Homo sapiens: one gene and its partners. The protein of the gene in region 1 purifies or fractionates together with the protein of each later gene. This does not show direct contact. Each region holds a gene or a part of one and is shown in the gene's direction. Other genes may lie near its edges.

What was found. The genes of interacting proteins can lie anywhere in the genome.
Region 2: the proteins of ZBTB7A (region 1) and GCN1 purify together in Homo sapiens (affinity purification with mass spectrometry, with the first as the bait; one large-scale study listed by BioGRID). This does not show direct contact.
Region 3: the proteins of ZBTB7A (region 1) and ZBTB43 purify together in Homo sapiens (affinity purification with mass spectrometry, with the first as the bait; one large-scale study listed by BioGRID). This does not show direct contact.
Region 4: the proteins of ZBTB7A (region 1) and PFKP purify together in Homo sapiens (affinity purification with mass spectrometry, with the first as the bait; one large-scale study listed by BioGRID). This does not show direct contact.

The regions. Positions count from the first base shown.
Region 1 is NC_000019.10:4,046,400-4,049,899, reverse strand, and holds part of ZBTB7A (zinc finger and BTB domain-containing protein 7A), read left to right. Parts: intron 1-1,655; coding exon 1,656-2,148; 3' UTR 2,149-3,500. UniProt on the Homo sapiens protein: Transcription factor that represses the transcription of a wide range of genes involved in cell proliferation and differentiation.
Region 2 is NC_000012.12:120,156,716-120,160,215, reverse strand, and holds part of GCN1 (stalled ribosome sensor GCN1), read left to right. Parts: coding exon 1-74; intron 75-192; coding exon 193-391; intron 392-1,600; coding exon 1,601-1,756; intron 1,757-2,185; coding exon 2,186-2,367; intron 2,368-3,223; coding exon 3,224-3,304; intron 3,305-3,500. UniProt on the Homo sapiens protein: Ribosome collision sensor that plays a key role in the RNF14-RNF25 translation quality control pathway, a pathway that takes place when a ribosome has stalled during translation, and which promotes ubiquitination and degradation of translation factors on stalled ribosomes.
Region 3 is NC_000009.12:126,832,540-126,836,039, forward strand, and holds part of ZBTB43 (zinc finger and BTB domain-containing protein 43), read left to right. Parts: coding exon 1-1,374; 3' UTR 1,375-3,500. UniProt on the Homo sapiens protein: May be involved in transcriptional regulation.
Region 4 is NC_000010.11:3,133,548-3,137,302, forward strand, and holds the end of PFKP (ATP-dependent 6-phosphofructokinase, platelet type), read left to right. Parts: intron 1-556; exon of another isoform or gene 557-751; intron 752-935; coding exon 936-1,035; intron 1,036-2,188; coding exon 2,189-2,291; intron 2,292-2,902; coding exon 2,903-3,032; 3' UTR 3,033-3,255; downstream 3,256-3,755. UniProt on the Homo sapiens protein: Catalyzes the phosphorylation of D-fructose 6-phosphate to fructose 1,6-bisphosphate by ATP, the first committing step of glycolysis.

The DNA.
Region 1 (3,500 bases):
GATGGAGACAGGGCTGGGGAAGGAGGTGACATTTGAGCCCAAATTTGACTGTGAAGATCCAGGAGGAAAAAAGAAAGTACCCCGGACTGCGGGAGCAGCACATGCAAAGGCCCCAGCGTAGCTTGTGCTTTGCACCTTTGCACGTCAGGGTGGAGCCCAGATAGGGGAGTGACGCTGAAGTGAGGGGAGAGTGGGCAGTCCTGGGTGTCGTGGGGTGGGGACTTGGTTACTAGGGTGACCAACTGCCCCACTTTGTCCCGGACAGAGGGGTTTCCCAGGATGCAGGACTTTCAGTGCTAAAACCAGAACAGTTGGTCACCCTATCTGTCACCAAACACCTCGGCCGCCGCCAGCCTCGAGAGGGCAGGGATGTTTGCCTGTCTTGTTCCTTGCGGTATTTTCAGCACCTGGAACAGGGCCTGGCCCTCAGCGGGCGCTCGGCAAAGGTCTGTGGCATGAATGAAGGCACCAGGCACTGGCTGGCCTCATCCTACCCCAGGGGTAGGGGCAGGATGGAGTGGCAGAAGCCCACTGTCTCCTTCTGTGGTAGGGAAAGGGGTTCATGGCGGGCGCAGTGGCTCACACCTGTAATCCTAGAGCTTTGAGAGGCCGAGGCAAGAGGATCACTTGAGCCCAGGAGTTTGAGATTAGCCTGGGTAACGTAGCTCAACCCCCATCTCTCAAACTTACATATATATATATATATATATATATATATATATATATATATACACACACACACACACACACATATAGTTTAATAGCTATTTAATAGGGTGTGGTGGTGCGTGTGCTACTCTGGAGGATGAGGCAGGACGATGGCTTGAGCCCAGGAGTTCGAGGCTGCAGGGAACCGTGATCACGCCACTGCCCTCCAGCCTGGGGGACAAAGCCAGACCCTGCCTCTCTTTTTTTTTTTTTTTGGAGACAGTCTCATTCTGTCACCGAGGTTGGAGGGCAGTGGCGTGATCTGGGCTCACTGCAACCTCCACCTCCCAAGTAGCTGGGATTATAGGCCTGCGCCACCACGCCTGGCAGATTTGTTTTTTGAGACGGAGTTTCGCTCTTAAAAAGTGAAATTTTTTTTTTTGAGACGGAGTTTCACTGCAACCTCCACCTCCCAGATACAAGTGATCCTCCTGCCTCAGCCTTCCTAATAGCTGGCATTACGGGCGCCTGCTACCATGCCCGGCTGATTTTTGTTTTTTGTTTTTTTGTTTTTTGTTTTTTTAGTAGAGACAGGGTTTCACCGTGTCGATCAGGCTGGTCTCGAACTCCTGGCCTCAAGTGATCCGCCCGCCTCGGCCTCCCAAAGTGCTGGGATTTCAGGCCTGAGCCTCCGCGCCTGGCCTAGACTTTGTCTCTTAAAAAGTTAAAAAAGGAAAGGAAACGGGGTTCAGAGAGGCATAGCGTTTTCCCAAGGCCACACAGCACTCAGGGTCCGAGGCCCTCTTTAGATGTTCAGAATGCGAAATCGCCCCCACTCGTCTCGTTTTTCGAGGGACCGTCCCCATCGGGGCACCGAAACCTCTGGTGCACGGTCCGTGTTCTGCAAGGGTGATGATCCAGGGCCTGCCGTGTCCGTGAGGGTCCCTGGGCGGGGATCGGGGGTCCCCGGCCCCACTGACCGTGCCCGCCCCGTGCCCCGTCCACAGGCAGGACAAGCTGAAGGTGCACATGCGGAAGCACACGGGCGAGAAGCCGTACCTGTGCCAGCAGTGCGGCGCCGCCTTTGCCCACAACTACGACCTGAAGAACCACATGCGCGTGCACACGGGCCTGCGCCCCTACCAGTGCGACAGCTGCTGCAAGACCTTCGTCCGCTCCGACCACCTGCACAGACACCTCAAGAAAGACGGCTGCAACGGCGTCCCCTCGCGCCGCGGCCGCAAGCCCCGCGTCCGGGGCGGGGCGCCCGACCCCAGCCCGGGGGCCACCGCGACCCCCGGCGCCCCCGCCCAGCCCAGCTCCCCCGACGCCCGGCGCAACGGCCAGGAGAAGCACTTTAAGGACGAGGACGAGGACGAGGACGTGGCCAGCCCCGACGGCTTGGGCCGGTTGAATGTAGCGGGCGCCGGTGGAGGAGGTGACAGCGGAGGTGGCCCCGGGGCCGCCACCGACGGTAACTTCACAGCCGGACTCGCCTAAAAACCAAAAAGAGAAAACAGAAACCCGAGAAAGAGAGAGACAGAGAGAGAGAAAAAAAATCACCCACCACCCCCCCAAAAACACAAAAAAAGAAAATCTATCTATATACAGATATCTATATCTATATATATATATACAGATATATATATATGACGCGTCACAGAATCTAGGGTAGCGCTTTCTCAGATTTCCCTCCTTTCTGACGTTTTTCTCCCTCCGCAGGGGCCCCGGCCCTCCCTGGCTCCCCTTCCCCCCACCACCCCATCGCTGGGTTTCGGGGCTTGGTTTGGGGTTTTTTGTAGGACACAAGGAATCCGAGACCCCGCACAGCCCCCTGGGCACCCGGCATGGGGCCTGGGGCCCGATCCGAGGCCCTGGGCTGGGGGGAGGGTAGACGTGGGGGCGCTGGGGGGGGACTGGGGTGGGCTTTTAATTTCCTCCCCTCGCTGGTTTCTATGAGTCTTTCAGACAAGACCTTAAATGATTTCTGTCTGCTCTGAGCGGACGTTAAAATGGGCCCCCGTCCCCCGACCCGCACCCTCCTTCCTCAGGGCACTTACTAAGGGAGGGGTCTCCCTCTCCATCTCCCCAGTGGCCTCCCCGCCTCCAACCCTGCCTGCGGCCTCCCCCCGTCGCCCACCCCACGTCTCCTGGCCACTGAGACACAAACCTATTTATTTCTAGGCCTGGAGAAAGGAGATCGGACTGGGGTTCCCGGTGGGGCGCCAGGATGGCTCCTGGGGGTGCTCCTGCCGCCTTCCTTCACGGCACTTACAACCGGCGGGACCCCCAGGGACCACCCCTCAGGGCGCCCCCCCACCCCCGCCCGGTCCACCTAGACCCCCACGTTTGGAGATTCAAAACTTCTGTCTTCGTCCTCTCCCCCGAGCCCCCTCTCCCAAATTTTTAAAGCACTTTTTAGATTTTTTTTTCTCTTTCCTCCTTAAAAACAAAATTTATATATAGATATATATATATATATAAATAATATACTTTTCCTCAGAGGAGCAGGCAACAGTGTGGGATAAACAGAGTCACGATCAGAGGAACCCCAGGGTCTGGTGATGGCAGGGATGGGGGGAGAGAGAGAAAATCCACAAATTCCAATGTCACAAAAGCAATAAAACAAACTAGAAAAAAAAAAGGTTTTACAAAATGAAAGGAAGGAAAAAAAAAAAGGCAACCAACCACATTAGAAGTCTTGGCACTTTGTAACGGAACGGGTACTACACTTTATCTTAATTCTTAATTTAAAAACATGTTTACAAGTTACAACCAACTTCTATGAAAAGTTGAAAAGACAAAAAAAAAAAAAAAAAGCGAGCGAGAGAGAGAGCGAGAGAGAGAGCGAG
Region 2 (3,500 bases), on another chromosome or scaffold:
TGACCAGCAAGCAGAAGGAGATGCTGCAGGCCCAGCTAGACAGGGAGGCGCAGGTCCGGAGGCGGCTGCAGGAGGTGAGTGGCCACCTCCGCCACATGCTCAAGCCGGAAGAGTGCTGGGCAGCTTGGTCCTGCTGCTTGCTGTCACAAGCAGGGCCCTGCTGACCTGCCTTCTGGACAACTCTGCTTGCAGCTGGATGGGGAGCTGGAGGCGGCGCTTGGACTGCTGGACATCATCCTGGCCAAGAACCCGTCCGGCCTGACCCAGTACATCCCTGTTTTGGTCGACTCTTTTCTGCCCTTGCTGAAGTCTCCCCTGGCTGCTCCCAGGATCAAGAACCCCTTCTTGTCCTTGGCTGCCTGTGTCATGCCCTCTAGGCTCAAGGCTTTGGGTTAGTCCTTGTTTGCTGGCTGCAGGGATGGCCCAGGGGTGCCCCTGAGTGCTTGGACAGGGTGTGCCCCTGAGTGCTTGTGGGGAGGTGGGTGGTGACCTCAGCTGCTGAGTTTTGTTTTCTTGTGGAAGCAGCCTTGGAGACTCAAGCTGGATATGCTTAGGAGAGACGTAGTGCCTCCTCTTCTCTCCCACTTCACATCTGTGCCCTCCCTCTGAGGAGTAGGTTTTAGATGCTAGTCAGTGTTCGATCTTTGTATACCAGTTTTAAAACTAAGAAGTCAGAAGTTCAGTGGCAGTGAGGATGGTTTGGTGGCTCAGCCCAGCCCAGATCTCCTGAACAGCCACATGACAGCAGTGAGCAGAGGCCCTTGAGACCTTTAGCTTCCTCTTAGCTCTGGAGAAACAAACACCAGGTAGGGTGGCTGGCAGTTCTGGTGGCCTTGCTTCTGTGGGTTGTTTAGTGGCCTTCAGCAGACTTCTATCCTGGCCTAACGGTGATGTTCCCACGGGTGAGGCTAGAATCTGGGAACTGTTCTGAGTGGAAAAGTCAGCTGGTGCATATGAAACCTGCCAGAAGTGTCACCTGGCTGTCTGGGCTTGTTGCGTAGAGGTGGAGATGCTGCACAGATAGAGCTGTACTCTTGGCTGAATGACTCTTTGGTGGCCCTTGTCTCCTGTCAGCGTACTCATTTCTTAAATGTCCAAAGGGCAACTCTCTGCCTACCTGCCCTCTGAGGCTGTCACAAAGATCAAGTGAGAAATTAGGCTGGGGACATTTTGGCGAAGCAGAAAGATTTTTTTTTTTTTTTTTGAGACGGAGTCTTACTCTGTCACCCAGGCTGGAGTGCAGTGGCGCCATCTTGGCTCACTGCCAGCTCCGCTTCCCGGGTTCATGCCATTCTCCTTCTTGAGCCTCCTGAGTAGCTGGGACTACAGGCGCCCGTCACCACGCCCAGCTAATTTTTTGTATTTTTAGTAGAGATGGGGTTTCACCGTGTTAGCCAGGATGGTCTCAATCTCCTGACCTCATGATCCGCCCGCCTCGGCCTCCCAAAGTGCTGGGATTACAGGCATCAGCCACCGCGCCCAGCCGCAGAAATATTTTTTTAAGTCAGAAGGATGAGGCACTGGGTCCCCTGTTTTAGCCTGGGCTGGATTCCACATCTCTGTGTGTCATCTCCTGCTGGGTCTCTCCTCTTCAACACAGGCACTTTGGTGAGCCACGTGACCCTGCGCCTGCTGAAGCCAGAGTGTGTCCTGGATAAGTCCTGGTGCCAGGAAGAGCTGTCGGTGGCTGTGAAGAGGGCGGTGATGCTGCTGCACACCCACACCATCACCAGCAGGGTGGGCAAGGGGGAGCCAGGTAAGGGCTGGGACGGGATCAGGGGCACCAGGCGGTGTGAGCTGGTGCCAGGAATGCTGCTCAAGGCACAGCGTCACCCAGGGCCTCCTGAGCCTGGGGGATTGGACCATATGGAGGATTTCTGAATTGAACCTTCGTAGTCTGTGAATTGCAGTGAGCCCAGTTGAGGGTTTACTTTTTGTCACTGGTGTCCCCATCTCTGTTTTAACTCTCACATCCTGGAACTGGGCAGTGTTTGGCAGTAGAAGCAGAATTGGTTTTAGAACTGGACTACCAGCTGCTGTCTCTGTCCTCGTGCCATGTGCTTCCAGGTGTCAGAACGGGCCTCTGGTCCATCCGTTCCCTACTTTCCCTGAGGATAGAAATAGGCAGCAGTGGCCCGGGTCCCTGCCCTGCCTGCAGAATCTTATCTGCTTCTCGCTCTCACAGGTGCTGCGCCCTTGTCCGCGCCAGCCTTCTCCTTAGTCTTCCCGTTTCTGAAGATGGTGCTGACGGAGATGCCCCACCACAGTGAGGAGGAGGAGGAGTGGATGGCCCAGATTCTTCAGATCCTCACTGTCCAAGCCCAGCTGAGGGCCTCCCCCAACACCCCACCCGGGCGGGTGGACGAGGTTGGCAGGGAAGCTCTGCTCTCCTCTTGGTTTAAAGGGGATCAGGGAGGCAGGGCCTGTGGACACGTTTTGTCTCATGAACAGTTCCTGGTGGGGAAATAGAGAGTGTATGTTTATACCAACAGCAGCCTCACACAGTGTTGTGGGTTTTTTAAGGCAAAAACGGGTCAGACTGCTTCTTTCATGTGATTGTAGACTCTGGCTCTCCTGCCATGCCAGTACATGTCAGTTCACCTGATTGACTTTGTTGGCTGCATGAGATTCTGTGCTATGGATGTACCATGTTTTACTTAACTCTTTACCTGTTGATGAGTTCTTAAGGTTGTTTCTAACTTTTTCCTGTTTTGAACAGCACTGTGATGTGCCCTCTTGTATGTATATGCCCCTTACTTAACCAGTGTGAGCATTTCTTTAGGACAGGTTCATTGGACATGGAATTACTAGATTATATGGCATATTCTGAGCTATACTCTCACCAAGAGTTTTCTTTTCTCAAAGCCTTAATGCAACCTCAGATAGTATTAATATCGTCAGTGATGAGTGAAAGAATGATAATCTCATTTTATTTTGCATTTCATTTAAAGTTGAGTGTCTCTTCATATATTTACGGTCTTTCTGGATTTCATAGTGTGAATTTCAAGCAAGTTTCAGAATTTAGTTTTTAGTTCCTGAGGATCATGGTTGACTGGGGTTAGCACCTGTGGACCTAGTTGTAAACTTAATGAGGTTTCTGTGGTGGGGCCGGTTGTATGATCCAGAATGTTCCCCCGTGGGTGAGAGGATGCCCTGCCGTTGGCCGCCTGGGTTACAGACCTCCCCACAGCCTCATCTCGACTTACCTGCCGTTCTCTCCTAGAATGGCCCGGAGTTGCTGCCTCGCGTGGCCATGCTGCGTCTTCTGACTTGGGTGATCGGGACGGGCTCGCCTCGCTTACAGGTGATGTGGTTTTCAGTTGGCTGTTGCTGTGACTCAGTTCGTGACCCAGACCTCAAGTCCCAGTGTAAAGGGTGGAGTCCTAGTTTCCTTTCAGCCCTTACTTTTGGACTTTGGTAGAAAGACTGCTTTAGAGAGCCAGCCTGACTGTTGTTAGCTAGTGAGGGGTTTTGCTTGGGTCCTGCCACTGGAGCTGGGG
Region 3 (3,500 bases), on another chromosome or scaffold:
GAATTTCCTGATTTTTCCAGCACCATTCTACAGAAACTGAACCAGCAGCGCCAGCAAGGACAATTATGTGACGTCTCCATTGTTGTCCAAGGCCACATTTTCCGGGCACACAAAGCCGTTCTTGCTGCCAGTTCACCCTACTTTTGTGACCAGGTACTCCTGAAAAACAGCAGGAGAATTGTTTTGCCTGATGTGATGAACCCAAGAGTGTTTGAGAACATTCTCCTATCTAGTTATACAGGACGTCTAGTAATGCCCGCTCCAGAAATTGTTAGTTACTTGACAGCGGCAAGCTTCCTCCAGATGTGGCATGTGGTAGACAAATGCACTGAAGTTTTAGAGGGAAACCCTACAGTCCTTTGTCAGAAGCTAAATCATGGCAGTGACCACCAGTCACCAAGCAGCAGTAGTTATAATGGCCTGGTAGAGAGCTTTGAGCTGGGCTCTGGGGGTCATACTGATTTTCCCAAAGCCCAAGAACTGAGAGATGGTGAAAATGAAGAGGAGAGCACCAAAGACGAGCTGTCATCCCAGCTCACCGAGCACGAATACCTGCCCAGCAACTCGTCCACAGAGCATGACCGCCTGAGCACGGAAATGGCAAGCCAGGATGGGGAGGAGGGCGCCAGCGACAGCGCCGAGTTCCACTACACCCGGCCCATGTACAGCAAGCCCAGCATCATGGCTCACAAACGCTGGATCCACGTGAAGCCCGAGCGCTTAGAACAGGCTTGCGAGGGCATGGATGTGCACGCGACCTACGACGAGCACCAGGTCACAGAGTCCATCAACACCGTGCAGACAGAGCACACGGTGCAGCCTTCGGGAGTGGAGGAGGACTTCCACATCGGGGAGAAGAAAGTGGAAGCTGAGTTTGATGAACAGGCTGATGAAAGCAATTATGATGAGCAGGTGGATTTCTATGGCTCTTCCATGGAAGAGTTTTCCGGAGAGAGGTCAGATGGGAATCTAATTGGGCACAGACAGGAGGCTGCCCTCGCAGCAGGTTACAGTGAGAATATTGAAATGGTAACAGGGATTAAAGAAGAAGCTTCCCACTTAGGATTCTCAGCCACTGACAAGCTGTATCCTTGTCAGTGTGGGAAAAGTTTCACTCACAAGAGTCAGAGAGATCGGCACATGAGCATGCACCTCGGTCTTCGGCCTTACGGCTGTGGGGTCTGCGGTAAGAAATTCAAAATGAAGCACCATCTCGTGGGCCACATGAAAATTCACACAGGCATAAAGCCGTATGAGTGTAATATCTGTGCAAAGAGGTTTATGTGGAGGGACAGTTTCCACCGGCATGTGACTTCTTGTACTAAGTCCTACGAAGCTGCAAAGGCTGAGCAGAATACAACTGAGGCTAACTAAAAATAGGATCTGGCCCTTGAGTGGCATGCACAAAAATAAACTATGGTAATTAATGCAAATCTGGGCACAGATGATGCGTGCTACTTGCTATTATGAGAGAAGCTTAAAAAAAAAAAGGAAGATATTTCTGAAAGACCAGCTCTAAGTAGGCCAATTAAAAAAATCTAATTCCTCAAATTTGTGTGTTCCAGTCCTGGCCTGGAATGGGTAATGGGGTGAGTTAACCCACCGCCCAGCTGGCAAGGGAAACCTTCTGACTGGTTGTGATCGAAACAGGTGGACAGAGACACCTGCACTTGGAACTGGACTCCACCCACCAGTTCCATTTTGGGTGGCAGCAGCTTTGGATCACTCATTATTACAAGGTCATGCTGAAATTTTATTTTGCTCTTGCTATAGATACTTAGGTAATGTGGATTTGTTTTGGTAGCTATTTCACTGAAGGAAGTGCTACTTATATAAAAGCTAGAAATAATGTGATTCCTAGGATGAGAAATTGGTTAACAGAGCTCTGTTGTCTGGTTTTAGTCTTTCTAAAGGATATTTTAACTAAAACTATGGAGATGCTAAGAGAGTGACTTTCTAAATATGAAACAGATAATTTACGGTACAAGGCTGACATAGTGCCCTTGTCAGTTTCTGTAAGATGCCACTACTGTCACAAGGTGTTTCAGACTCTTGATAAGGCAGTGTTTTGTATTTTAGTTCTAACATTGAGTTTGGACAATTTTATCTAATTGTAATTCTCTAGGGTGCCAGAGATAGGTATTTCTCATTGGTTTGCTTTCCCAAATCCTGTTTGGTTAATTGTAGCCTCCATACAGTGGGGTCTTCTCTGTGGCTGGTAGACACCAAGCTGCTGTGACTGACCACGGTACCACGGGCTGCCACAGCCCCTGCTCTGTCTTAGATTATGGTGCTTTACAAAGAGAGTGGTCCATGACCACACTTAGTGAGAAGGAGCCACAAGTTGTGGCTGAGAGTTCCCTGTGAACTTGAGTAGTTCATAGAGTGCTAAGGTGACACTCCACCAACCAGAGTGAGAGGGCAGATAGGCAGGATTCTATGAGTGGTTATACTTAAGGGGGACAAAACTGCCCAAGAAGAATCTTGAGAATACACTCTTTCAAGGTGGGGGAGATACTCTTTAGAGGGTACACTGAGCTAATACTACCAGTTCTTTATGAGCACTGGAATGTGTTTGTAAAAGGAGTCCTAAGTTTAGCAAGGTAGTCTACAGAACCATGCTCCCACATTATAGATAAAGCTGCTTAAACTTAAAAGTCCACAAAGCTACGCCGACCAGAAAAAAAAAATTAAAAAAACAAACAAGAAAAGCAACTATTCTGAGACCTTTTCTGCCCATCAGTTAGATGATTTAGGTTAAAAAGAAAGGTAATATTGCACATGCTTTTAAGCTGTGTAACATACCTGAGGTTATCACCAGGGTAGGACAGGGTGCTACTACCATGTCATCTTTTCCACAATCGTACTGGGTTATTTACTTCTAAATAGAAACTTTTTTTTCTTAAAATAAAAATAATTTTTCTTGGATTTGGGGTGAAATTTTATTTGAAAAGTTTGGCTTTGCTGTAATGTAATAGACATTGCTGGCAATGGCCTCTGATTCTCAAGCTCCTAACACCAGGGTGTTTACTTGTTGAACATTGTCTGGAAAGAGGAAAGAAAATACTTATTTACCAGTTAACTCTTGTAAGCAAGATTACAAACAGGGATTTATTCACAACACTGTATCATTCTCGATATATAAAAAGCACTTTGTATTTAAAACTTTATTATAAATATATATATATATTGTTTTTTTTTAAACCTAGAAACTAGATATTACCTCTTGGTTGTTTGCCACATTAATAGCTTCTCTTAGTATTGAAACGTTACTGGTTAGCAGTCTTTTCTCTGTGTACCTGACACACGTATACTGAGGGGATTGTACAATCAAGCCTATTGTCTCCTTTTCTTTCACTCATGGTAGAGGCCAGTGGGTTTTAGGTATGATCCTAGCCATTATATTTGAGGAGAAATTGTTCTATTACTCCTACTAATTTCAGTACTAAGGTGGTGATGCCATTTTGTTCTGCCAAAAACTGATCACCCTCTCCCATGGT
Region 4 (3,755 bases), on another chromosome or scaffold:
AGCCTCCCGAGGAGATGGCAGTATAGGCACCCACCACCACACCCAGCTAATTTTTGTATTTTTAGTAGAGATGGGGTTTCACCACGTTGGCCAGGCTGGTCTCAAACTCCTGACCTCAGATGATTCACCCACCTCAGCCTCCCAAAGTGGTGGGAATACAGGCCTGAGCCACTGTGCCCAGCCAAAACATCTGAACTTTTAAGTGATGCCAAACATCACCAGCTTTAGGATTCTTTTGTTGGTGAGGTTTGAGTAATGGGGATTTTAAGGGAACTGTCAGCTTTCATGAAAACAGTGATACCCCCATTACTTGGAAATGCTTATTCAAATTAAACACTTCATCAAGTTAAAAACTGGAGCTTCCCTAAGATTTAAAATGGATTATCAGACATGTAGTATACTTGACACCCCAAGTCAGAATGACCTGGAATGAGCTGCACACAGGCACACACGTGTTATGAGCTGAGCCTGGGACACAGGGTCCAGGCCTCCTAACTTGCACACACTCCTTCCTCACCACCTCCTATTCTTATACTTTTAAGCCAGAGCCCATGAATCCCCTGCAATGATGATGAAATAGTAGGCATATGTGTGATCTTCTTAAAGAATCCACAACGGTTATCAGATTAAAGCTGTGACCCATCCCCAGCTCAGATGAGTTCATGAAATCCTGATTTAAGATTTTAAAATAATGAAGATTGTTAGTTGACTTGTTCGGTTTATTAAAATCCTCATCTTACTGAGCGGGGGGAACACTTGATACTTTTTCTTAACAGGCCAAGTTCAGGCTACGGGAATCACAGGTTTTGTTCTGTTCCAACTATAAGGACCTAGAAATAAAAACATGAATTCTGCAAAATAGAAATTGTCATTTCTATTTAACAGCAAAGTGTTACTGTATAACTGGTATTTCATATAACTCTAACCACCAACAGGGTGGGGCACCCTCTCCATTTGATAGAAACTTTGGAACCAAAATCTCTGCCAGAGCTATGGAGTGGATCACTGCAAAACTCAAGGAGGCCCGGGGCAGAGGTAAGGGGTCTGGGGAGGGAGGCCACAGCCTCGTGATGCAGGCCGTCCTGCCTTGGTGAAAATGCTGTCCTATCGGGGAGAAGTAGGGTGCTGGTTCCTTCTTCAGTTCAGTACTGAGCTGCACGTGATGTTTTACTCCTGATCTCTGAGTGTTGCTATTTAACCAACCTTGGATTCCTGGGATAAGATCAGCTTGGGTATGACATGTTCTCTTTTATCACTGCTAGATGCAGTCTGCAGTTCTTTTGTGCAGGCTTTTTGCTCTAGAGATCCTGAACGTTGGCCAGCAATTTCCCCTCACAGTTTAAGTGGGGCCTTCTATTTTTTGAATGTTTGCTAGGACAACCTCCTTGTGACTATCCATCAAAACTTCCAGTTTTGAGGAAGATCTGACTGCTGAATGAATTGTTCATGTTTGTAGAACTGCATGTTCGTAGAACTGTGCATGTTCTTCCTTAAATCAGTTCTGTAAGTTACATATTCTAAGAAATCTTTAAACTGAAGTTTCAAGAAACATGACTTTTTTATAATACTCTTGTTAATGGCTCCAACATGGCTGTTCCCCACTCATTCCTGAGTGGCTCTTTGTGCCAGCATCTTTCTCACCCCCACCCCCCTCAGCTTTCTTAATCAGTCATAGCAGATGTGTGCTTTTATTCCGGCAAACCACTATCACTGCCAGTGTCCAACTTAGAAAAATGACAGTCTATAAAAACCAGTGATGTGAATAGTTTCAATGGGTTTGTCTTTTTGAAGAACTGACTTTGGCTTTGATTCTTTCTACAGCGATTTTCTTTTGCTAATTTAGCTATGGATGCTTTTTGCCTCTCAGTGTGTGTATGTGTGAGCATAAATTAGTGTCCTGTAATTTAAGCTAATTTCCCTATTCCACTATTTAGTGAAAAATTCTCTCCACTGGGAGGAAAAAACAAAAGCTGCTTTCCAGGAAGCCCTCGGGGCAGTCCCACAGGAGCAGAGCTGCACGAGGCCAGGTGCTGGCCCCACTGCGCGGCTGTTCTCAGTCTCACTGGGCTTCCAGGCCGGGTTCAGCATGGTTCTGAGGAATCTCAGTTCTCATCTCGCCCCGTGATTCTGCTCCCCCACCTGCCCATGTTGACAGGGTGTTATTAATCTTTTTTAAAATCTTTTATAGGAAAAAAATTTACCACCGATGATTCCATTTGTGTGCTGGGAATAAGCAAAAGAAACGTTATTTTTCAACCTGTGGCAGAGCTGAAGAAGCAAACGGATTTTGAGTAAGTTGGCTGGGTTCCCTGAGGCAATAAGACCCCAATGTGAGTACGGGACAGGGGAATGGCCATTGCTGTTGCTGTCGGCAACTCATTCAGGGGTTTGAGGAACTGGCTTTTCTGAAGCTCAGTTAAAAAAATACTAGGTCTTGGCTGGGCGCGGTGGCTCATGCCTATAATCCCAGCACTGTGGGAGGCCGAGACAGGTGGATCACAAGGTCAAGAGATCGAGACCAACCTGGCTCATATGGTGAAACCCCATCTCTACTAAAAATACAAAAATGAGCCAGGCATGGTGATGCACACCTGTAGTCCCAGCTACTCAGGAGGCTGAGGCAGGAGAAATCGCTTGAACCCGGGAGGCAGAGGTTGCAGTGAGCTGAGATTGCACCACTGTACTCAAGCCTGGCGACAGAGCGAGACTCCACCACTGGGTCTTCGGGAATAATTTTAAACAATGGTTTCATTTGATCCTGAAATTGGCTTTATCATCTAGTTGATTCAGCCGACCCTACAAACCCTGTGTTTCTGGCAAGACCGCTCGCTGTGCTGGCCAGGCGGAGGCATCTCCCGCCAGTGACTGCAGGCCTCACTGCTGTCTCCTCTTACCTCCACAGGCACAGGATTCCCAAAGAACAGTGGTGGCTCAAGCTACGGCCCCTCATGAAAATCCTGGCCAAGTACAAGGCCAGCTATGACGTGTCGGACTCAGGCCAGCTGGAACATGTGCAGCCCTGGAGTGTCTGACCCAGTCCCGCCTGCATGTGCCTGCAGCCACCGTGGACTGTCTGTTTTTGTAACACTTAAGTTATTTTATCAGCACTTTATGCACGTATTATTGACATTAATACCTAATCGGCGAGTGCCCATCTGCCCCACCTGCTCCAGTGCGTGCTGTCTGTGGAGTGTGTCTCATGCTTTCAGATGTGCATATGAGCAGAATTAATTAAACATTTGCCTATGACTCCAACAGTCCTCTGTTTTAGTTTTTTAAGTAGGAGATTAGTACCTCAATCTATGGGTGGCTACTAAAGGTTTTCTCAGTTTTGTGGGCAAAGATTAGCAAAATATTTTTATAGGGATCACTGAACTATGCACACGTCATACAAGGAGAACAAAGCCAGGAGTTCACACAGGCCAAGGGGAAGGCCACGTTTACTCACCATTCCATATCTGCCATGTGTCAGTTTCCATCCACAGCAGCAGGCCGGGACCCTGGGCCTCGACCCCAGGCTCCTGCTCTCCTTTGAAAGTAAAACATGAATCTTAGTTACTTGTCCTCTTGATTGCAATCCTAGCTGCATGTTAAAACCACCAAGGGGTGGGTGGGGCGGAGGTGGGTTCAAAAATCTGATAGCCAGCTTCTCCTCCAGGCCAAGCCACAGTCCTCGCTGGGACCTAGGTTGGAACTCTCCGGAAGACTCCTGCCAGAGTAGACACGGCTGCTGGGATGACAGCCCTGCTGCCCTG